Homo sapiens: one gene and its partners. Changing the gene in region 1 together with any one later gene gives a genetic interaction. Each region holds a gene or a part of one and is shown in the gene's direction. Other genes may lie near its edges. The genes, in order: RBM17, UBA2, LEO1, PPP2R2A, CTNNBL1, CENATAC and TIMELESS.

Region 1 (2,457 bases):
CATGCACAGCTTAGGATACATCACGAGCCTGACAGGTGAGTGCCAGAAACCAACAGTTGTCCCGACTTGTGAGGTTATCTGAAGTAAGGCAGCCGGTGGCTGGATTAGTAACTGCATATTCCCCTGGGCCCGTGACCTTGAACGTTTGCTCCAAGTCAACTCACCTATAGGAATTATCACTCACATGCCCTGTCAGCCCTTTGGGAAGTGAGATGAGCAAAAATTGCAAGTAATGGTGGAGGCTCAAAACATCCAGATGCTATTGTAAAAACATGCCAAAGCAAAGCAGAGGCTTTTATTGCAGATAAGGCTGTGTTTTCGCTCAGAGACCAATTGTGTAGATGCCTAGGACATAAATGGTGGGGATCGCTATTGAAATTAAATTAATTATTGTAAGTAGGACTCAGTTCTGTAACACATCTAATGATATGCTGCTCAGTTCTGTAACACATCTAATGGTATGTTTTGATACAGATGCATCCAAGAAGTCAGATTCAAATCCGCTGACTGAAATACTTAAGTGTCCTACTAAAGTGGTCTTACTAAGGGTAAGAAGCTGAGGAAAGCAAGCTCTCTGCCTGCCTAGATTTGTGTGTGTCACCCCAGCCTACCCTGCTCCCCCTAAAAGTTAAAACTGAAAATGATACTTTTGCAAATAATACTTTGGGCAGATCCCACGTAAGGCTGATTTTAGATTTTTCACTAATGTGTAAGTCTCTTTGCTAAGTACAGTGTTTAAGACTGCAGTGAGTAATTAAATATTTGAAATTGCTAGAGCTTCAGATAGTTTATACATTTTGGTGCTTGCATAGATGCTTTTGTAACTCTTTACAGGCTTAATATATGTTTTAGTGTTTTAAGAAATACTAACTTTTGGGTACTTTGGGGATGAAATTTTTCATTATGTCGTTTGGGATTGAGAACATTTACCATCACTAAGTCATATTTATATACCTCTGCTAGGTGTTTGTAAGTTATACTTGGTACTTGAATTTGTTTATTTTTGTGTTTAAAGAACATGGTTGGTGCGGGAGAGGTGGATGAAGACTTGGAAGTTGAAACCAAGGAAGAATGTGAAAAATATGGCAAAGTTGGAAAATGTGTGATATTTGAAGTAAGAGTGTTTTCTTTTGATGTTTATAACACAAGTTGTAATTGGCACATTACAAAACATTTTCTACAAACAGGACAGGGTATGCTATAAGTAACATTCTTACTGCAGAAGGTGACAGGCGTTGGTTATTTGTACTTCTCTTGCTCAATTATTACAGTTTTAAACATAAAGACAATGATTTCAAGTTTTATTTGATGAAGAAACAGGAATGCTTCATGATTGAGGATCAGTATGATGACTGAAGACCTTGATTCTAGCGTGCTCAGTAGTTTAGTTCCTTAGACATGCCTTTGGTTTCAGTCATTTGGTGAGTATTTAGTGCCTCTCACATGCACTGCACTGTGCGGAGAGCACTTGGATTACAGGAAGCATGCTCTGTACTCTCAGTGGTGTGTTCAGTTGAAGAAACACATAAAATAACTGAAAGATATTCAGTTACTAGACTAGGTAGTATTGACTAAGTTCAGGAGTTGAGAAAAGGATTAGATCAGTGAAAAAATAGACTGCCTTGTGAGCAATAGCAGATATGGGCTGCGCTTTGAAACGAACAGGTGGGATTTGCAGGGAAGGGTATTCTGATTGGGATAATGGCTCGTAGGAGACAGTGAAGATCAGGACTACCAAAATGGAATGGATGGGCCTGTTGGGGATTAGCAGAAGTGCTTAGGTGGGTGGAATTACAGAGGGCTAGGAAAGCTAGACAGAGCTAGTCAAAATGAGACCTGATGTGAAAGGCCACTAGGGCACCAGCCTTTTTAATCTGAAAGCTCTGCTTCCTCTGTTTCTTTATCCTGTTGCTGTTTGTTGACCACATAATTATTTGTTTACGTCATCAGCTGGCACAGGGCCTTTATGAGGTCAGAGACTGCCTAGCCCTGTGTTCCTGGCACCTAACAATGCCTGTCATAAAAACAGGCATTCAGTACGTTTTTGATGATGAACAAATTATACTTATTTCCTTGGTATTTGACAACTACTTGACTGTATATGATGATAATTAGAATATCCACTCTGAGAAATCATTTAAAAGAGAAAACTCATTCAATGCAATCTCAAATGCCTTTACTCATCACGCTCTCATTTTCTTCCAGATTCCTGGTGCCCCTGATGATGAAGCAGTACGGATATTTTTAGAATTTGAGAGAGTTGAATCAGCAATTAAAGGTTAGTGGTACAGCTAAATATTAAAGAATAAAAAAGTTGAATTTACAGCCTTAATCTTTACAAGTAAAGTTACTGTTTAATTAAAGTTAAACCTTTATCTTATAGGATACCTGTATTAACTGTCTTTTGTTTGCCTTTCAGCGGTTGTTGACTTGAATGGGAGGTATTTTGGTGGACGG
Region 2 (3,500 bases), on another chromosome or scaffold:
AGTAATTTTTATTTGGGCTTGTAAGTCATGTTCACTGAACCAGGAGTCGGCGTCCTGGCACAGCCTTAGCTATGACTGGTAGATTCAGTTAGCTTTTGTGTTAGTTTATCATAAAGTAAGCATTTTGGAGTCACTAATATTTTAAAATTTCCTTGACAACGTAAAACGTAGTTGGAATATAGATGAATGAAGTGTTTATATTACCTTATAATGTTGAGAAACTGCCATCATGGAGTAAATTTTTCTCATATCCTGACTTCATAGGGTGTGACCGAGTGTTATGAGTGTCATCCTAAGCCGACCCAGAGAACCTTTCCTGGCTGTACAATTCGTAACACACCTTCAGAACCTATACATTGCATCGTTTGGGCAAAGTACTTGTTCAAGTAAGAGTGTATATTTCTTGGCATGCTTTTCGGTACTGATGATGGAAAATGGAGTCATTTTTATTTAATTACCTTGAAGAGATTGAACTCAGGATGTTTAAATATGGTGAAGGGATGCTTTAGTAGCTTTCTTGCAGTATTTCTTAGGTTAAATGTAGCTGGCCGGGTGCGGTGGCTCACACCTGTAATCCCGGCACTTTGGGAAACTGAGGTGGTCGGATCACCTGAGCGCAGGAGTTTGAGACCAGCGTGGCCAGCATGGTGAAACACATCTCTACTAAAAATACAAAAATTAGTTGGCCGTGATGGCGAGTGCCTGTAATCCCAGCTACTCGGGAGGCTGAGGCAAGAGAATTGCTTGAACCCAGGAGGTGGAGGTTGGAGTGAGCCGAGATCGCGCCACTGCACTCCAGCTTGGCAACAGAGTGAGAATTTGTCTCAAAAAAAAAAAAAAAAAATGTGGCCATGACTGTTCAGGAAACTTAGTCTTATATTGGAGACAGCCATGTAACTAAGCGATAAAAATCTTTATATTTGGAAATGTGAACATTTACTTACAAATAACCCATTGGTTATAAAAGAAATCACAATGGAAGTTAAAAATACTCTGTACTGATAATGATGAAAATGCTATACCAGAATGTATTGAATGTGGTGGTTGGCAAAAAGTTACAGATTTACATACATGAAGAAAGGCTGAACATTAATTACTAAATCTTTACTAAGAATCCAATTTAAGTTAGAAAATGAACCACAGAATACACTTTAAGAAATGAGAATGGTGTGGGCATGGTGGCTCATGCCTCTAATCCCAGCACTGTGGGAGGGTGAGATGGGAGGATCCCTTGAGCCCAGGAGTTTGAGACCAGCCTGGGAAACATGGCAAAACCGTGTCTCTACAAAAAATAGAAAAATGAGCCAGGTGTACCTGTACTCCCAGCTACTTGGGAGGCCGAGGTAGGAGGATCAGTTGAGCCTGGGAGGTTGAGGCTGCAGTGAACCGAGATAGTGCCACTGCACTCCAGCCTGGGTGATAGTGAGATCCTGTCTTAAAATGAAGAAAGAAAGAAAAAAAGAATGAGAAGGAAGGATATTAATTGAAGTAAGAGCACATTTGATTACAAAATAGAAGAGGAGTAAGTGAGAACTAAACGGGGAATACAGATAGCAGAGATTAAATAGGCTATAAGAAAAAAAAGGGATGATAATAAGACCATGGTAGTACATAAAAAATTTAAATGATCTGGGTAAATACATTTTTAAAAACTTACTAAGTGCCCAGTGCGGTGGCTCAGGCCTGCAATCCCAGCACTTTGGGAGGCTGAGGTGGGTGGGTCACTTGAGGCCAGGAGTTTGAGAACAGCCTGGCCAACATGGCGAAACCCCGTCTCTACTATAAATACAAAAATTAACCAGGCGTGGTGGTGGGCATCTGTAGTCCCAGCTACTTGGGAGACTGAGCCATGAGAATCACTTGAACCCAGTGGGTGGAGATTGGGCCACTGCACTCCAGCCTGGGGGACAGCATGAGATGATGTTTCAAAAAAAAAAAAAAAATGAAAGGAAAATAGAATGCCTGAATTTAGCAGTATACCTTAGAGCAATGTAAGTAGTTTAAATTATTCTAAATAATGCACCGAACCTATGTTATTTTTACAGATTCATTTCACAAAACTTGCAAGGAGTATATTGTAATATTAGCTAAACTCTCCCTGAGAAATTTTTAAAAGGGAATACTACTTAGCTTGTGTTATTAGGCTAGCAATGTCTTTGATAGCAAAACCTGTCAAGGCCATTATGGCATAAGAAACAATTGCTAGTCAGTCTCACACCTAAATAATAGATGCAAAAATCCTATGTAAAATATTAGCATATCCTGGGAATGGGCGCAGTGTATCATGCCTGTAATCTCAGCACTTGGAAGCTGAAGCGGGTGGATCACCTGAGGTCAGGAGTTCAAGACCAACTTGGCCAATATGGCGAAATCCTGTCTCTATTAAAAATACAAAATTAGCCGGACATGGTGGTGGGCGCCTATAATCCCAGCTACTTGGGAGGCTGAGGCAGGAGAATTGCTTGAACCCGGGAGGTGGAGGCTGCAGTGAGCCGAGATCGCTCTGCTGCGCTCCAGCCTGGGCAACAGAGCAAGACTCCATCTCAAAAAAAAAAAAAAAAAAATTACCATATGGATCTAGAATCATATAAAATAAAAAGTGTGTCTTGACCACGTGTCTATTCAGGAATACAAGCATGGTTTAAACTAGAAAATCTGTAAATGTCATTCACTCATTAGGAAATTAAAGATAAACTATATAGTTTTCATAGATACAGAGAAAGCATTTGGTAAAATTTAGCAAATGGCCTTTCATGATGAAAGTTTCTACTAAAACAGAATAAAAACTTACTAGGCCGGGCGAGGTGGCTCACGCCTGTAATCCCAGCACTTTGGGAGGCTGAGGCGAGCGGATCACGAGGTCAGGAGATCGAGACCATCCTGGCTAACACGGTGAAACCCCATCTCTACTACAAATAAAAAAAATTAGCCGGATGTGGTGGTGGGTGCCTGTAGTCCCAGCTGCTCAGGAGGCTGAGGCAGGAGAATGGCGTGAACCCGGGAGGCGGAGGTTGCAGTGAGCTGAGATTGCACCACTGCACTCCAGCCTGGGCGACAGAGCGATACTCCGTCTCAAAAAAATAAAAAATAAATAAATAGATAAAATTAAAAATAAAAAAACTTCTTACTAAAATGAGAATGTTCTCAACCCGATAAAGGGTATTTTGTAGAAACCTTCAGCAAACATTGTCTTTAATTTTTGCACTCAGAAAAGTATACATAACAGTGTCAACTTGATAAATGTTCACAAAAACTACACTTGGAAGCTTTATTTATTTGGCAAACATTTTTTTTCTTTGGGAGGCTGAGGTGGGTGAATCACTTGAGGCCAGGAGTTTGAGAACTGCCTGGGCAACATGGCGAAACCCTGTCTCTACTAAAAATACAAAAATTAGTGGGGTGTGGTGGCACACGCCTGTAGTCCCACCTACTCGGGAGGCTGAGCCATGAGAGCCGCTTGAACCTGGGAGGCGGAGGTTGAAGTGAATGGAGATCATGCT
Region 3 (3,500 bases), on another chromosome or scaffold:
TTAAGCATATTTTTTTCCCTGCTTTTAATTTATCCAACCTCTCTAGGTGATTAAAGAGGGTTTCAGTGTTGTTCATTCTCCTGCCACACATACATCTGTCACCTCTGTATGCTTATTCTGTGATTATGTGCCTCTTGAGGAAAAACAAGATGCATAGAGTCATTTAAACTATAATTTTCTAAAGTACTTGTGTTGTGAAACAGGTAGAAAATACTATAAGATGGAGGATACGCCGAGATGAAGAAGGAAATGAAATTAAAGAAAGCAATGCTCGGATAGTCAAGTGGTCAGATGGAAGGTGAGCACAAAACGCCTGAAGGGTATTGACATACCCAGAACGGGTCAGAGGGATCAAGTTTTGAAATACTTTTTAGTTTTAAATTTATTATTAGTTTTAGAAATGGGGTCTCACTCTGTTGCCCATGTTGGAGTGTAATGACATGATAACAGCTCAGTGGAGCCTCAGACTCCTAGTCCTAAGTGATCCTCCCATCTCCCAAGTAGCTGGGACTACTTGGTGTGCACCACCCTGCATGGATTATTAAAAAAAAAAAAGAGCCAGGCACGGTGGCTCACGCCTGTAATCCCAGCACTTTGGGAGGCCGAGGTGGGTGGATCACGAGGTCAGGAGTTCAAGACCAGCCTGGCCAAGATGGTGAAACCCCATCTTTACTAAAAATTAGCTGGGTGTGATGGCGGACGCCTGTAATCCCAGCTACTCAGGAGGCTGAGGCAGAGAATTCCTTGAACCCAGGAGGCGGAGGTTGCAGTAAGCCGAGATCGCGCCACTGCACTCCAGCCTGGGCAACAGAACTAGATGCCGTCTCAAAAAAAAAAAAAAGAAAAAATTTCATAGACACAGTTCTCCATATGTTGCTTAGGCTGGTCTTGAACTCCTGGGCTCAAGCGATCCTCCCATCTCCCAAGTGCTGGGATTACAGGCGTCAACCACCGTGCCCAGCCACAAATTGACATTTTAAAAAAATTGCCCTTCACTGGGAATGTAGTAGAGCCTGGTAAACATCCCAGCATGTGTTAGTTCTTTGTAGTCCATCAGTTTTTCTCATTATGACTTCTTATTTTCGTTCCTTCCAAATTCTGTGTAAAAAGAGAGAGCAGCAGTTGAATCACCTGTTTTGTTTTGTTTTTTTTTTTCCTTGAGATGGAGTCTTGTCCTGTCGCCCAGGCTGGAGTGCAGTGGCACGATCTTGGCTCACTGCAACCTCCACTTCCCGGGTTCAAGCAGTTATCCTGTCTCAGCCTCCCGAAGGCTGGGACTACAGGGGTGTGCCTCCATGCCTAGCTGATTTTTGTATTTTTACCAGAGATGGGGTTTCACCATGTTGACCAGCCTTGTCTCAAACTCCTGACCTCGTGATCCACCTGCCTTGGTGTCCCAAAGTGCTGGGATTACACATGTGGGCCACTGTGCCCAGCCTGAATCACCTTTAAGTGAAGTAAGATGGTAGAGTGAAAGCTTTATGACTTTAATAGATGAAATGTTTCTCTTTCCAGCATGTCCCTGCATTTAGGCAATGAAGTGTTTGATGTGTACAAAGCCCCACTGCAGGGCGACCACAATCATCTTTTTATAAGACAAGGTACTGGTCTACAGGGACAAGCAGTCTTTAAAACGAAACTCACCTTCAGGTAACTGTTATTATTATTATGTATTATTTCTTATGGTAAAAGCAGTGAAACATAGATGTTTCTGTAATGCCTGCCACCTGATTGATGTAACCCCACGGTATGATTCAGCAAGAACCAAGATCTTGTGCATAGTTCTGAAGGTTCAAAGGTTATTTTGTCAAATACACTAAAAGTTGCTGTTTCTTAGGGAACCAGGTCATGCTAACCAGACTTACAAGAGACTGTTAGGTAAACCAGAATGTCAATGTATTTAATTCCAGTGGTTATTATAACTGCCAAGAGGCCTAAAATACGTGTGTCTGCTAGCCAGTGTGTCCTTTGTTTTTAGTAAAATTGACCTGGGAGACTAATAACTAGAGGTTGTTGTTGTGCATGCAATCGAAGGAAAGCCAGCAAGTTGGTCAGTGTGAGACGGGCCATCTCAGTGCCGTAGGCCCCGGCATCTAATACCACTGCAGAGGTGTGTCCCCCAAGAGGACAGGAATACTCAGCTGGTGAGGGCACTTTCCTTCTCTAGACTGAGTATGTGCTGCACTGAGATGTTCATGCTTCTCTTTCTTGATTATAAGCAGACCATCCTCTTTGGGTAATGCTTATCTTTAGAGGGGGCACAATAATGTTGGTTATGATTTAGCTTTTTGAAATTATAAAGGTTAACATACAGGCTTTGGAATCAGTTAGACTCATATTTGAATTCCATTTCTACTTGTGTGACCTTGTGCCACTTTCTTAACCTCTTTTTGCCTCAGTTTCCTAAATCTATAAAATAGGATAATTATATTAATATTAATATATTAATATTAATTAAAAGTAATGGCAAAAACCGCAATTACTTTTGCACCAACCTGTAGTATCTAATTAATGTTGCTTGAGCGTATCCATTTATTGCTTCTAGAAGGTGATCATGCCATACAATCTTTTTTACTCCAACCTTCTGTTTTTCATTTGTGGAATAAGAATGTCTCAGTGAGCCACAGAATGAAGAAAACTCACAATCTTCCACCTTGGTATATTCAGTCGAGTGTCTCTGCCTATTTTTTCAGGTGACTAGGAAATGGTCACTGGGCTCTTACTTCTGTGACGTGGGTATCACTGGCTCACAAATGTATTTGGTAAACAGTGATATGCTCTTCGTTTATTTCCTGGCAGACCTCACTCTACGGACAGTGCCACACATAGAAAGATGACTCTGTCACTTGCAGATAGGTGTTCAAAGACACAGAAGATTAGAATCTTGCCAATGGCTGGTCGTGATCCTGAATGCCAACGCACAGAAATGATTAAGGTATGTTTGCTAAGCCTAAGCGTTATCCTGGGATTCTTTGGTATATTAGGCAAGTATTTCCCAAAATGCTTGTTCGTCATCTCTTATTGGCCTACCTTTTCCTCTTCCAACTGACATGAATAGGGAGCTGGATTCATTTCCTCAGCATTTGCCAAACAATTGGTGACGTGGCAATGATAGTAAAACAGAAACAGGGCTCAGGTTCTCTCTTCACCAGGCCCTGAGAGTTCAGCAACAAACCGGTGATTGAAATATCTGAATTTTCATGTATAAGTTCAAAGATCATTAAGTCATCTATGTGTGGTTTAGAATCCATGTCAGAAGTCAGTGGAGATACTAGAGAGTAGTGTAAAATAGAGAATAGACCAGGAGTTTGAATGAGAGAGTGCCTAAAGTAGACTCTGGTAAAGAATAAGACGAGCTTATGAGTTTTTAAGGTCAATTTGTAACATTCTACCTGGTATATTTTCAAATTTGACCCAGCTGTTAATTAGGCACAAGTTTATTTGGGGCATTGTACCTAATCGATAGAGCATGTGCTCATATTGGCTATTGGCCTTTCCTG
Region 4 (3,500 bases), on another chromosome or scaffold:
AGGCCAGTCCACGAAGAATATTTGCCAATGCTCATACATATCACATCAACTCAATTTCTATTAATAGTGATTATGAAACATATTTATCTGCAGATGATTTGCGGATTAATCTTTGGCATCTGGAAATTACAGACAGGAGTTTTAGTATCCATTTGGTTTTCTTTGGTGTTTGGTGAAGAAGGCATGTTGTGCCCATATTAGATTTATTTCATCTCTCCTAATGAATTTGGTTGCTTTTTATAGTCTGTGTACATATATGTATGGCACCTTATTTTTTTCTTTGTAGATGAGTAATGAAATACTGGAAAAAGTTATTTGCTAAACATAAAGGGCATAATGTATTGATTTAAAATTGGATTCATGGAATTTTAAGGAATTTGTCTATTGTATCTATGTAAATAGGATTATTTTTTATAATTTAGGTTTTTGTTTTAAAAATCACATTTGTGAGGTCTGTGTATGGTAGCTTATGCCTGTAATCCCAGCGGTTTGGGAGGCTGAGGTGGGAAGATCACTTGAGGCCAGGAGTTCAAGGTTTACAGTGAGCTTGATTGTGCCTCTGCACTCCAGCTTGGATGACAGAGCAACACCCTGTCTCTAAAAAAATTTTTTTTCTTCTAATCAAATGTATGAACTACTGTATTTGAATTTTTTATTGTAAAAATAGTCTCACCTGGCTGCGGTGACTCAGCCTGTAATCCCAGCACTTTGGGAGGTCAAGGTGGGTGGATCACCTAAGGTCAGTAGTTCAAAACCAGCCTGGCCAACATAGTGAAACCCCGTCTCTCCTAAAAATACAAAACATTAGCCGGGCATGGTGGCGCATGCCTGTAATCTAAGCTACATGGGAGGCTGAGTTAGGAGAATTGCTTGAACCTGGGAGATAGAGGTTGCAGTGAGCTGAGATTGTGCCATTGCACTCCAGCCTGGGCAACAAGAGTGAAACTCTGTCTCAAAAAATATATATATATAGATTTATATATATTATATTAATTGATATTAAGATTAGATTAAGATTAGATTAAGATTAATCTTAAGATTAGATTAAGATTAATTTTAAGATTAGAAAAAGATTAATAATTAGATTAGATTAGAAAAAGATTAGAAAAAGAAAGATTAAAGATTACGATTAGATTAAGATTAGAAAAAGAAATTCACGCAAGTCATGATGCATGATTGGGTAAATAAAAATATTCTATTGAGGCCGGGCACAGTGACTCATGCCTGTAATCCCAGCACTTTGGGAGGCTGAGGCGAGGCGGATGGATCATGAGGTCAGGAGGTCGAGACCAGCCTGGCCAACATAGTGAAACCCCGTCTCTACTAAAAATACAAAAAAAAAAAAAAATTAGTCAGTTGTAGTGGTGTGCGCCTGTAATCCCAGCTTTTCTGGAGACTGATGCAGTAGAATCGCTTGAACCTGGGAGTCGGAGGCTGCAGTGAGCCGAGATTGCGCCACTGCACTCCAGCCTGGGTGACAGAGTGAAACTCCGTCTAAATAAAAATTAAAAAAAAAAGTTTTAATCCCTTTGGAATTTATACTCATAAAAACAGTGGAGTGCAATTCAGAATTAATATTTTTGCTTAGGTCCATGAATGGGTTTTAGGTTTGAGAAATGTAGAATTATATTTGCCCTTTTTTCTAAGTGGAAATTCCTTAATAAAATGTTATCTAGACATTGTGGATATCAAGCCTGCCAATATGGAAGAGCTAACAGAGGTGATTACAGCAGCAGAATTTCATCCAAACAGCTGTAACACATTTGTATACAGCAGCAGTAAAGGAACTATTCGGCTATGTGACATGAGGGCATCTGCCCTCTGTGATAGACATTCTAAATGTAAGTTTATTGTATCTTTCCTTAAAATGATTACATATTCTGTTTGTCTGAAATAAGCCTCAGACATGATAAGTACAATTACAGAGGTTCAAAGTCTTAAACCCGTGTGTCCAGAGCCACTTGTACCCTTGGTAATCTGCCTACCTCCTCATGAGGCATTCCAGGTTATTCCTGGAAGCTCTCTTGGGGGGCATGTCTATTGATTGCCAAGGAATATATCTCTCATGGAATGCTGTTGTTCTTTGGTAACTTGCGGTTGGGCTCTGTAACCTTGTATTGAAGTAGAGCTGTTCCTTTCTTTCCCATCCTCCCTTCCTACTTTGAGCTTCCTAGGAAGATTTCTTCTGAGGTTTCCTTGGCTTAAAAAAAAAAAAAAAAAAACAACTTTGGTTTAAAAACTTCAGGATACAATATTCTTGTCTTGTTGAATATTAACTCATGAAAATTGATACATGCCTGTTACCAAAATAATTTTACCTGGCTACTAGAAAATAAGATCCTGGTATGAATTTGGGATGGGCGAGGATGGTGTGTTTCTCATGGTGATGATACAGGCAGTCAGTGAGGCATATTGCAGGAATAATACCAATAAACCTGGTGCACTGAAGTCAGAAGTCCCAGGTGAGTCTGGTTCTAAATTAGTCATATGACTGGAAGTATACTGCATACTTATGCATCTTCAACTTCAATATTCAATTAAACTAAGAAGCTTTCAGGAGAATTCTAGCCAGAGAGATGTTTTTCAGTTCTTTATTAGCCTGGCATTTTACCTCACTTGTAGGGAGTTTGTGAATGGTTGTTTAGGAAATGCTTTGTCCAAGCCAGAATATTGTACACCTTGCCCTTTTTGTGTTGTTTTGTTTTGTTTTTAGTGTTTGAAGAACCTGAAGATCCCAGTAACAGGTCATTTTTTTCCGAAATCATCTCCTCTATTTCGGATGTAAAATTCAGCCATAGTGGTCGATATATGATGACTAGAGACTATTTGTCAGTCAAAATTTGGGACTTAAATATGGAAAACAGGCCTGTGGAAACATACCAGGTATTTGAGTTTTTTCTTTCAATGAGCATATACCCTGTTTACTTTGAAGTGTTTATAGAGAAGGATTTTGTTACTAGGTTTTAATCCCTGTATGGTGTTTGTTCACCATTAGGCCTTTTCCCTCAGAGATCTATGAGTATGTTGCTCTTCCTTATGTTAAATGTATATATACTTACATAGGTTGTGTTGTCTCTTGAGTTTTGCAGTTAAAGTGTGATTTTGCTACCCATTTGGTTCAGTATTGACATTGTTTTTTTTTCTGCCACTATGTACATTTAAAGTGAGGATGGAAGAGCACCCTTCATTGAGGTCTGGGCAGGAAGAGGATTGGAGAAAGTGGCCAGTCCTTAGTAGAGGTGCACCTGCTCAGGTTGTGGGAGTAGTTGAACTAGAGATTAAATTTGGTGTGCCAAGTCAAATGGACTGGTGTTCTGCCTTTTGGCAGATAACTGTTGTCTTCAGCTAAAAGAAAGGGCTTGAAAGCCTTAGCAGATGGCTTTAGGAGTTGCCTATCCGTTGTTGGATGTCAGTTCTTGATTCTCTTATCAGCCAGCCACTACTGTTTATCCGTGTCCACTACATCAAACAGAAGAGAATGAAGTACACAGCCTGGAACA
Region 5 (3,500 bases), on another chromosome or scaffold:
AGACTCAGAAGGAGCTATGCACAGCGGTAAGGAATGTGCCAACTGCTGATTGGCCCATATGCTCCTATGGGCTTTTAGGAGAGAAGAAAAATGCAGGGCACTCACCTTTAGAGAGCACCAATTTGACATCACAGGGTGCTAGGCAGGCTTCTAAGATAAGTGAGACACTCAGGAGACCCTGTCCCCAACAGGCATACGTCCCTCACAAGTGAGGTGACTGACCATAGCGCAAAGCAGAATGGAGCCAGTGCTGGGATGCAGAGGTACAAGGGGAATGAAGACGGCACAGTTAACTCACAGTTAATCCGGCTGGACATGAAAAGGAGCCCAAAGATCCAGGGAAGCTGTACGGAAGGCATGGCTTCTTTTTTATTTTTTATTATTGTAGTAATAATTTATCGTTTTGACTATTACTACCATCACTACCATCTATCCACAGGCCTTTTTTTCATCTTGCAAAACTGGAATTGCCCGTTCCTCCCTCCCCCCAGCCCCTGGCAGCCACTATTCTGCATTCTGTCTCTGTGGCTGCCTGCATGGGAAGGGTTTCCGCAGGCAGCTACGCATGGGCATTGTTGAGCAGTCATCACCTTGGCTGTGGCGTAGGAGCTGTGACCCGAGAATGCTTCGAAATACAAATATTTGTGCCAAGGGTTGCAGTGGAAGCCACTGGCCAGTCTTATCGATGTTTTAGTCTCCTGGTGAAAGTTGTTGGAGGACCACACAGATGCCCAGGAGCAGCCATGGCTACTGCACAGTGGCTGGTTTGCAGAGAAAATCTTAGAGGATTACTGACTCAAAACTCTCTCACTGCTGGGCGAAAAGAATGAGCCAGAAACTTAAATGCTTTTAGAATTTGGCCCATGGCCCTTTGATTTGCGAGTATTCTTTATGGTTTAAAATCTCCTCCTAGTAGCTCATAAACATGTATTTCCATATTGATTTGGGGCTCTTGGTAACCCAATTTGTGTGATTTTAAAGCTGCAGAGGCTGATAGGATTTATCTTTGGATGACATGTTGGCATGTGCGTGGCTTGCGCCTGGTCATGGATACGGTGTCCCACAGGGTATTTGGAGGCAGGAAAGGATCATGGAGAGAGGCCTGTATGTTAGCCCTGTAGCCAGCGGCCTTGACAAGGCTCAGAGGCATCTTAAGGACACCTCAAGAGCTTTTCAGCAAAGATGTCACATTTGCCTTAGGATTGCTGCCCCCGGGCCTCACACCCAGTTCACCCAAGAGGGCTCTCGGGAAGCGCTGCCCGGGGTAGTGTGGTGGTGGTATGCAGGGGTCGGGGGGAACCACTCTTGGAGAACCAACTGTGCTAAGACCATGGAGCCTGCAGTGAGTTGCCCAGGTTCACAAGCAAGCTCTGTCGCTTTCTAGTGTCTGACCTCAGGCAGCTCTTCCCCTCTCCAAGCCATAGCTCCTGCATCTGTAAGATGGGGAGAACCTGTCTCAGAAGGCTGCTGTGAGAATGAGGTGAAGTGCTGTATGTACAGTGCTCGCATGGTGGCTGGCACCTAGAAGAAAGTGCCTGTTACATGTTAGCTGTCTTTATTGTTATAATTAGTGTCCAAGCTCACCCAGGAACAGAGATGCTCAGACCAACATAAATTCTGGATCTCCATGTAACTCTGGGCAAGTTAGTAGGTAACATATTTAAGTCTTGGTTTCCTCCTCTGTAAAAAACACAAAGAAAAAAACACCTAAAATAAATATTGCCTCTCTCAGGAAGCCTCCAAAGTTAAAATGCAGTTGGGTGCCTGGGACCAAGTTACATACTCAGTAAATGGAAGTTCCTTCCTTCCTTGACCTAATCCTTTCGCCTGGAGTTAGCAGCAGCTTGGACTGAGATGCCACCAGGAAAAGCAGGGACCAGCACACAGGCTCGACTTCCCCGGGGCCTTGTGGGGGTGGGTGGTTGTCAGTGGGTGCTTTTCCAACTGTGTAAAACATCCATGGGACTCTGAGAACATGACCATTGGCATTGTAAGCAAGAGCAAGGGTCTTTCTCTGTAAGTGGGTTTCATTTGAATGGCATCCCTGATGAAATGAGAACCTACTGCCTAGCAAAATATTCTACTTCTGGAGAAGCGCAACTTTCAACCTTCCAAGTTCATTGTTGTTGTCAAGGAATCTCTGTTAGACCTGAAGGATTTTCCTTTCTCAGTTTCTATTTTGTGGTTATATGTACATCTTCAAGGGTTTTCAATGTGAAAATATTGGGCATTCCTCCTCTCTCCTCCCTCTTCCTCCTGCATTTTTAAAAAGGTGAACATGTAAGGCTTAAGGTTCATGGATCTGAACCAGGCTTGTGAATACTCATCCAGGTCTCCGCCCTGGAAGACGACTTTTCCCCATCCACCAGCCCCAGTGCCCCCTCCCTCTCCCTCTCAACATAAACAGAACAGCTTGTATTCCATGTCTGAATAGTAAACCTGCTGTCTAAAGTTTGCTTTAATATTTATGCGTTCAGCACTGCTGCCTGTTTCTGAGTTCCATCAAAGCCTTTATTATAAGAGCATTTGAAAATGTGGGGGAAGTAGAGAAAGGAGTTGACGTGTATGCCGTCTTTCTCACTCTCCACTGACTTAGCCTCTTCCCTCTCTCCCCTCATCCTTTTCTCCCTCTCCCCTCATCCTGCAGTCTCTTTTCCTCTTACATACACATGCACACACGCACACACGCACACACACATGCAGCAGAGAGAACTCTTTCCCAAGACCTCTGGGAGGACTCTGTTCAATATTTAAACTGCTGCAGCAGCTGTAATAACCAGAGGTAGCTGGCACCACCAAGATTTGCTCTAAATAGGACTCTGCCATAGAAACAAAGAATGAGCAAGGGCAAAGGGTGAGGTTGAGGTGCCTGAGGGTGCAGCTTCCCCGGGCAGTGGATGAGCACTAGGCCAGTGGATGAGTACTAGGCCGGGTCGTCGGACCTGGTTCTGGGCCTGGCTCCGTGGCCGGCTCACTGTGGGACCCTGGCCATCCACGTGCCCCCTCAGGGCTGCAATAAATTTCTGAGAACCCTTCCAACTCTGATATTTGGTAACTTGGCATAAGAGAGGGTGACCCCAGCCAGTCCACCCACATCTGTCCTGGCCACCGAGGCCACTGTACCATAAGACATTCCTGTTTTGGAATGCTCACAGAGCAGAGTTTTTTTTCCCAAAGACTAGGGGCCAGGCAGGGTAGCCTGTTGCTTAGGTAACAGGATGCTGCTGTGAGGACCGGCCCCCTCCCAGTGGTTTTTTAGGGGCCTTTTTTTTTTTTACTATCCACACATTTCAAGGTTTGAATTCCGGCTCCTCTACATCCTAGACTTGGGCGGGTTGCTTCAGTTCTCTGATAGCCTCTGTTTCCCCCTGGGTAAGTAGGGATGGTGTTCTTTACCTTGTGAGATTGATGCAAAGGTTACATGTGAGACAACCTAGAAAATGCAGGCACATAGCAGTGCACAGCACATGTTAGTTCCACTCCGCTCTGTATGGGACAGG
Region 6 (3,500 bases), on another chromosome or scaffold:
TGGAATTACAAGCATGAGCCACTGTGCCCGGCCATGAACCAGTGCTTCTAAGAGAACTCTGACTGCATTCTCATCTGCTTGGCTTGAATTCCCTTACCTGTGTGCCAGGGGGCAGGCCTAGTCAGTGAATATGTGGACAGGACTGGGAGGGAGGGAGGGAAGAGTCTGTAAAAGATGGGCAGTACCTTCCATATGCTAATTTGTTTCCTTCCTGTGATACTGGGGTCTGGAGGGTGGAGGCATGGCCTAGGCAGGCTCTTAAGCATCCCAGACACATTTATTTTTCCTGAATCAAACTCAGCCTCAGGCAGTGCCAGACCCAGAAGAGGGCTCTTCAGCACCTAGAAGCTGGAAAGGGATGAACAGGTAAGACTATTAGGGAATCTCTTGTTGGGAATTTGACATCTTAGAACATTCTGCAACCTTTTGCCTGGGAAATGGAAACAGATCTAATCTTTACCACCCTCATGGCTCAAGGACCTCATCTGGCAGCCTGGCTCATGTTTTTCAGCCAAGTAGCTTCCAGCTTACAGCAGCCCTCAAATTTGGACCTGCCACCAGCTCCAGAGCTTGACTGGATGGAGACAGGACCATCTCTGACATTCATTGGCCATCAGGTACAAAGGATAAGCAAGCCAGAAGAGGGCCAATGGTCCCTCAGGTCTCAGGACCCCTTTCTCCTGATTTTCTACCTATTCAAGCCACTGCTGCCTCCACTGCAGGCTTTTCCTTCTTCCTTCACTGTTCCCTAGTAGTGTTCTCAGACCTCTTCTCACCCTCCAAAGCGATCCTATTCACATGTATTGACACTTAGGAGTGCCAACTCCTAAATCTTGCCCTCTGTAGAACTCATAGTTCCAACTCAACACAGGACATTAAATATCCCACAGGCATCTGAAACTAACCCCCACCACTCCTATATTTCCAATCACTAGATGCAGATCCTTTCCTTTTCCATCTCCCATATCCTGTCAACAAGCGGTCAATTTTAACCTGTCTGCCTCCATTCAGCCTTTGGGCAATTTCTACTCCCCCTTCAATCCTGCCTCACAAACAGAAAATCATTGTACCACTTATGATTTTACTCTACACTTCAGCTGTATTGTGTTGCTTCGGGCTTTTGCAGTTGCCATTGTCTAAAACCTGCTTTCCTTCCCTCATCACCTAGTTTACCTTCAACTGTTAGCTCAAATGTCACTTTTTCATAAAAGGCTTATCTGAACAGGTTATCTCTATTTCAAGTGGATGTAGCACCATGTAAAGTTGCAAATGTAATTTACGTAACTTGTGCTTAATGCTCTTCCCCAATTATATGTATGCTGTGAGGGCAAGGTTTTGCTCCCCTGGCATGTAATAGCCACTCTACTTACAGACATCTCCACTGTTATGACTGTGAGCTTCCTGAGGACAGGGTTGTCTTAGAGTGACTTACTGTGCTTTCAAAGTTTAACATCAGCTGGGGTGCAGAATTAGCATTGTGGCAGCAGTCACACCCACCTCTTTTAAAGTGTGCTTTGTCTATCGTTTCTAGGATTTTTTTTTTTAATCATGCCTAGACTTTAACTAGCACTTTTTTTCCCATTTCCAACTACAGGATATACCAGGAGTTGGTAACATCCACTCAGGTAAGGTCCAGGGCAGTGTTTTTAAAACCCTGGGAGATTTTTTTTTTTTTTTGAGATGGAGTCTTGTTCTGTCGCCAGGCTGGAGTGCAGTGGCGCAATCTCAGCTCGCTGCAACCTCTGCCTCTCAGGTTCAAGTGATTCTTCTGCCTCAGCCTCCCAAGTAGCTGGGGTTACAGGTGTGCACCACCACACCCAGCTAATTTTTTTTTTTTTTTTTTTGAGACGGAGTCTCGCTCTGTCGCCCAGGCTGGAGTGCAGTGGCGGGATCTCGGCTCACTGCAAGCTCCGCCTCCCGGGTTCACGCCATTCTCCTGCCTCAGCCTCCCAAGTAGCTGGGACTACAGGCGCCCGCCACTACGCCCAGCTAATTTTTTGTATTTTCAGTAGAGACGGGGTTTCACCGTTTTAGCCGGGATGGTCTCGATCTCCTGACCTCGTGATCCACCCGCCTCGGCCTCCCAAAGTGCTGGGATTACAGGCATGAGCCACCGTGCCCGGACTTTTTTTTTTTTTTTAAATAAAGTTGGCCAAGATAAAGCGTATGTATCGGTAAAAGCCTTATATCCAGAATATATGAAGAACTGTCAACTTGATAAGGAAACAACCCAATAAAAGCATATGAATAATGTTCAACATTAGTCATTAGAGAAATGCAAATTAAAACCACAGTGAAATACCACTACATATGTATTGGAATGGCAGAAATTAAAGACTGATCATGCCAAGTGTTTGGCAGTGTAGAAAAACCAAACCTTCATACACTGCTCTTAGAATGTAAACTGGTACAGTCACTTTGGAAAACAGTTTGGGATACACCTACCACATTATCCAACCGTTCCACCCCTAACTAGAGAAAAGAAAGCCTGTCTACATAGACTTGTACACAAATCTTCAGAACAGCTTCACTTGTAGCAGCTCCAAATTGGAAACAATTCAGATGTCTATCAACAGGCAAATGGATTAACAATGGAATAGTATTCCAGGATGAAGACAGAATTATTGATACGTACGACACAGATGAATCTCAGAAGTCCAGACCTGGCCGGCGTGGTGGCTCATGCCTGTAATCCCGACACTTTGGGAGGCCAAGGCAGGCGGATCACGAGGTCAGGAGTTCAAGACCAGTTTGGCCAACATGGTGAAACCCCATCTCTACTAAAAATTCAAAAATTAGCTGGGCATCGCAGCGCACGCCTGTAATCCCAGCTACTTGGGAGGCTGAGGCAGAATTGTTTGAACCGAGACCTGGGAGGCGGAGGTTGCAGTGAGCTGAGATTGTGTCCAGCCTGGGCTAGAGCGAGACTCCTCTCAAAAAAACAAAAGGCCAGACCCCACCTCAATGTCCACACACAGAAAATCCTAAAAAATACAAACCAATAAAGCAACTGAAAGATCACCGATTGCCTGGACATGAAAATATTTTAATGGGGGCAGTGATACTTACAGGGGGATGTTTGGGGTCTAGATTGTAATGGCTTCGCTCAAAAGTCACCAAATTTAAGTGTGTATCGTTTATGTCAGTTGTGCCTCAAAGCCATTTTAAAATGACTGTCACATATGGGGTATGTCGCTTTAAATTAGCCTAGGGCCTTCTAAAGCTCCAGAATTCCTGGGCTTTGCTTTTAGACATTTCTAGCTCTTAATGAGGAGAGGTAAGCTAACAGCTAGGACATGTTTCACAATAGCCTGAAGACTTAAAAAAAAAAAAAAAAGCCTTAATTTTTTTTTCAGGTGCCACACCTCCCTGGATGATCCAAGATGAAGAATACATTGCTGGGAACCAAGAAATAGGACCATCCTATGAAGAATTTCTTAAAGAAAGTAAGTAAACTAATTCAAGAGAGGATCGTCTAAATCTTCACACTCAAAAATGGT
Region 7 (3,500 bases), on another chromosome or scaffold:
TGGCTGACAGTGTCAAGGACTTCCAAAGGTAGAGAGGCACATGCTCTGGAGGCTATTGGGATGGGGACTCGTGATCACTTCCTGGGCTTCCTCTTCCACTGACACCTTCCTAATCAGGAAAGGAACCCATATTGTACTGTGGACGGGGGATCAGGAGTTGGAGCTGCAGCGGCTTTTTGAGGAATTCCGGGACTCAGATGGTGAGTAAGCTGGAAACTCAGGGGACCTTTGAGATGAAAGCCAAGCTATCCATTTATTTTGGGGCTGCCTTTTATTCCCAAGGAAAGATTCTCCCATCCCTTCTGTTCACTTACTATATTTGTAAGTGTCATTTTTGGATGAATTGAGGTACCCTCTTTCCAGAGACCTCTGATTTATTTTACTCATCTCTTTCCCTGTTACCCTTGGGTATTCACATGCTTGCTTTTTATAGATGTCCTGGGTCATATCATGAAGAATATCACAGCCAAACGCTCACGGGCCCGAATAGTGGATAAACTCTTGGCTCTGGGGCTGGTGGCTGAGCGGCGGGAGCTGTACAAGAAACGGCAGAAAAAGTTGGCATCCTCCATCTTGGTAACAATCTGACCCTAGCTCTGCTGGCATGGGCTCACTTCCCTTGAAGTGGTCCTTAGGAGCAGTCCACCTGGATTCTTCCTGCCTGAGGCTGTTCTGACCAGGTCCTTCCGAGAGAGCAGGCGCGGGGGGGTGCGGTGGTCAGGAACGAGGAGACTCCACTAAGTTCCTTGTGTTGCCTTCATTTTCATTCCCCCAACCCCCAATGAATTTTAGCCAAATGGAGCGGAGTCCCTGAAAGATTTTTGCCAGGAAGATCTGGAAGAAGAGGAAAACCTGCCTGAGGAAGACAGCGAAGAGGAAGAAGAAGGGGGCTCAGAAGCAGAACAAGTCCAGGGTAGCTTAGTCCTTTCAAATGAAAACCTTGGTCAAAGCCTGCATCAGGAAGGTGAGGACTTTGGCTGGGAGAGATGTCTCAGGTGGAGGGCTTGGGAGTAGGGTCAAATGTAAGTTTCCCTCATTTCCTTAGGCTTTTCTATCCCGCTCCTATGGCTCCAGAACTGCCTGATCCGAGCAGCTGATGATCGGGAAGAGGATGGTGAGTGGACAGGTGACACTTTTAGGAGAAGAGCCCTGGAGGCTATTGGAGACCTACCTGGTCATGGGATGGAGAACCAGTTCTTCCCTTATATCTTCACCATATGACTATTGACCCTGTCTTAGGCTGCTCCCAGGCCGTTCCATTGGTGCCACTCACAGAGGAAAATGAGGAAGCCATGGAAAACGAACAGTTTCAGCAGCTGTTGCGCAAGCTAGGGGTTCGGCCCCCTGCCTCTGGGCAGGTAAATATGTCAGTTACAGTGTCAACCAAGGCGTGTTAGTCCTATTTCCAAATACATCTCCTCCTCCTCCTCACTGTCATGGTGGTCCTCCTTATCCTTATCGTCATCTTGGTCCTTCTCATTGTCTTGTCATCTCTGACCAAGATTCCTGCAGCAGCCATTCTGCTAGTCTTCTTTTCCTCTCTCTAATCTCCCCTTCCCCTAGATCCATCTTCCAGACTGCCTCCAGATTTATCTTTTTAAAATATAGTCTTGATTACAGTTGTCCCTTAGTGTCTGAGAGGGGATTGGTTCCAGGACCCCCCTGCCCACAGATACCAAAATCTATAGATGCTGAAGTCCCTTTTTGTAGTATTTGTAAATAACCTAGGTACAACCTGTATACTTCGTCATTTCTAGATTACATATAATACCTATACAATGTAAATGTTAGGTAAATAATTGTTATACTGTATTGTAAATATATATATATACATTTTATTTATATATATATATATACACACACACACACACACACACATATATATATATATATATATTTTTTTTTTTTTTTTTTTTTTTTGAGACAGAGTCTCACTCCATCACCCAGGCTGGAGTGCAGTGGCTCAGTCTCAGCTCACTGTCGCCTCAACCTCCCAGACTCAGGTGATCCTCCCACCTCAGCCTCCTGAGTAGCTGGGACTACAGGCCTATATTACCACTCCCAGCTAATTTTTTGTATTTTTTGTAGAGATGGGGTTATGCCATGTTGCCCAGGCTGTGTATTATTGTTTAATGTTGTATTGTTATTTTTTTTTAATATTGTCGATCTACAGTGGTTTGAATCCACAGACTCAGAACTTGTGGATATGGAGGGTCAAGTCCTCTGTCCAGAGCCATTGATGGTTCCTTACTGCTTGCAGGACAGAATCCACAAACTCCAAATGGCATCCCCATCCTTGGCCAACCTTTGCAGCCTCACAGCCACACCACTCACACACCGACTTTACATCATAGTCACCCTGGTAGGCTTTTTCATGCCTCCAAATGGTTAATCATGCCAGTCCCTCTATTGGAAGGCTGCAACCGTGCACACAGGGTGACACACACACACACACACACACACACACTCCATCTGTCTTACTGATGGACCTCTACCCAGTCTTCAAGAGTCTGCTCAATTGTCACCTTGTCAGAGAAGCAGTCCTTGTCATTCTTTCAACCCCTGAAGTAAAAATAATCACTTTTGCAGCTGTGATTTGTTCATGCCCCTGATGCAGCCTTAATCCTGTGGAATCTGCTGGGTATGGTGGCTCACGCCTGTAACCCCAGCACTTTGGGAGGCTGAGGCAGGCGGATCACCTGAGGTCAGGAGTTCAAGACCAGCCTGGCCAACATGGCAAAACCCTGTCTCTACTAAAAATACAAAAATTAGCCCGGTGTGGTGGTAGGCACCTGTAGTCCCACCTACTTGGGAGGCTGAGGCAGGAGAATTGCTTGAACCCAGGAGGGTGAGCCTTTATTGCTTTGCCACGGCACTCTAGCCTGGGCAACAGAGTGAGACTCTGCCTCAAAAAGAAAAAAAAAAAAATCCTGTGATACTACAGTACATTTGTTCTTTTTCCCATTGGATTGTGAGTTATTTGATAGCAAGGATCATACCTGATTCACCTTTACATCCCCAGGATTTATTTATTTATTTATTTATTCAATTGACAACTATAGCCAGGTGTAGTGGCTCATGCCTGTAATCCCAGCACTTTGGGAGGCTGAGGTGGGAGGATCGTTTGAGACTGGCCTGGGCAACACAGCAAGACCCTGTCTCTACAAAAAATTTTAAGTAGTTGGGCATCATGGTGGCATGCACCCCTGTGGTCCTGGCTACTTGAGAGGCTGAGGCAGGAGGATAGCTTGATCCCAAGAGATCGAGACTACAGTGGACCATGATTGTGCCACTGCACTTCAGCCTGAGTGACAGAGGCAGACCCCTTCTCATTTAAAAAAAAAAAAAAAAAAAGAACAACCAAAAAAACCTATAACTGGGAACCTCCTAATGTAGCAGGCACTGTGCTAGGCACTGGGTATATATTAGATAGTAAGTATTATAATAAATAGAGTTCACAACCCTTGTGGATCTTCACCAATATTGGGTCATATATATTC

Evidence for each region.
Region 2: changes in RBM17 (region 1) and UBA2 together harm fitness less than expected from each alone (positive genetic interaction), as found in Homo sapiens cells (one large-scale study listed by BioGRID).
Region 3: changes in RBM17 (region 1) and LEO1 together harm fitness more than expected from each alone (negative genetic interaction), as found in Homo sapiens cells (one large-scale study listed by BioGRID).
Region 4: changes in RBM17 (region 1) and PPP2R2A together harm fitness less than expected from each alone (positive genetic interaction), as found in Homo sapiens cells (one large-scale study listed by BioGRID).
Region 5: changes in RBM17 (region 1) and CTNNBL1 together harm fitness more than expected from each alone (negative genetic interaction), as found in Homo sapiens cells (one large-scale study listed by BioGRID).
Region 6: changes in RBM17 (region 1) and CENATAC together harm fitness more than expected from each alone (negative genetic interaction), as found in Homo sapiens cells (one large-scale study listed by BioGRID).
Region 7: changes in RBM17 (region 1) and TIMELESS together harm fitness more than expected from each alone (negative genetic interaction), as found in Homo sapiens cells (one large-scale study listed by BioGRID).

The regions. Positions count from the first base shown.
Region 1 is NC_000010.11:6,113,034-6,115,490, forward strand, and holds part of RBM17 (splicing factor 45), read left to right. Parts: intron 1-474; coding exon 475-548; intron 549-1,015; coding exon 1,016-1,114; intron 1,115-2,205; coding exon 2,206-2,278; intron 2,279-2,419; coding exon 2,420-2,457. UniProt on the Homo sapiens protein: Splice factor that binds to the single-stranded 3'AG at the exon/intron border and promotes its utilization in the second catalytic step. Involved in the regulation of alternative splicing and the utilization of cryptic splice sites.
Region 2 is NC_000019.10:34,438,381-34,441,880, forward strand, and holds part of UBA2 (SUMO-activating enzyme subunit 2), read left to right. Parts: intron 1-264; coding exon 265-386; intron 387-3,500. UniProt on the Homo sapiens protein: The heterodimer acts as an E1 ligase for SUMO1, SUMO2, SUMO3, and probably SUMO4. It mediates ATP-dependent activation of SUMO proteins followed by formation of a thioester bond between a SUMO protein and a conserved active site cysteine residue on UBA2/SAE2.
Region 3 is NC_000015.10:51,951,279-51,954,778, reverse strand, and holds part of LEO1 (RNA polymerase-associated protein LEO1), read left to right. Parts: intron 1-203; coding exon 204-298; intron 299-1,515; coding exon 1,516-1,650; intron 1,651-2,799; coding exon 2,800-2,935; intron 2,936-3,500. UniProt on the Homo sapiens protein: Component of the PAF1 complex (PAF1C) which has multiple functions during transcription by RNA polymerase II and is implicated in regulation of development and maintenance of embryonic stem cell pluripotency.
Region 4 is NC_000008.11:26,361,008-26,364,507, forward strand, and holds part of PPP2R2A (serine/threonine-protein phosphatase 2A 55 kDa regulatory subunit B alpha isoform), read left to right. Parts: coding exon 1-144; intron 145-1,676; coding exon 1,677-1,841; intron 1,842-2,713; coding exon 2,714-2,883; intron 2,884-3,500. UniProt on the Homo sapiens protein: Substrate-recognition subunit of protein phosphatase 2A (PP2A) that plays a key role in cell cycle by controlling mitosis entry and exit. Involved in chromosome clustering during late mitosis by mediating dephosphorylation of MKI67.
Region 5 is NC_000020.11:37,865,030-37,868,529, forward strand, and holds part of CTNNBL1 (beta-catenin-like protein 1), read left to right. Parts: intron 1-3,500. UniProt on the Homo sapiens protein: Component of the PRP19-CDC5L complex that forms an integral part of the spliceosome and is required for activating pre-mRNA splicing.
Region 6 is NC_000011.10:119,011,638-119,015,137, forward strand, and holds part of CENATAC (centrosomal AT-AC splicing factor), read left to right. Parts: intron 1-301; coding exon 302-366; intron 367-511; coding exon 512-617; intron 618-1,594; coding exon 1,595-1,625; intron 1,626-3,356; coding exon 3,357-3,446; intron 3,447-3,500. UniProt on the Homo sapiens protein: Component of the minor spliceosome that promotes splicing of a specific, rare minor intron subtype. Negative regulator of centrosome duplication.
Region 7 is NC_000012.12:56,418,427-56,421,926, reverse strand, and holds part of TIMELESS (protein timeless homolog), read left to right. Parts: coding exon 1-28; intron 29-117; coding exon 118-200; intron 201-433; coding exon 434-576; intron 577-792; coding exon 793-964; intron 965-1,045; coding exon 1,046-1,114; intron 1,115-1,239; coding exon 1,240-1,358; intron 1,359-3,500. UniProt on the Homo sapiens protein: Plays an important role in the control of DNA replication, maintenance of replication fork stability, maintenance of genome stability throughout normal DNA replication, DNA repair and in the regulation of the circadian clock.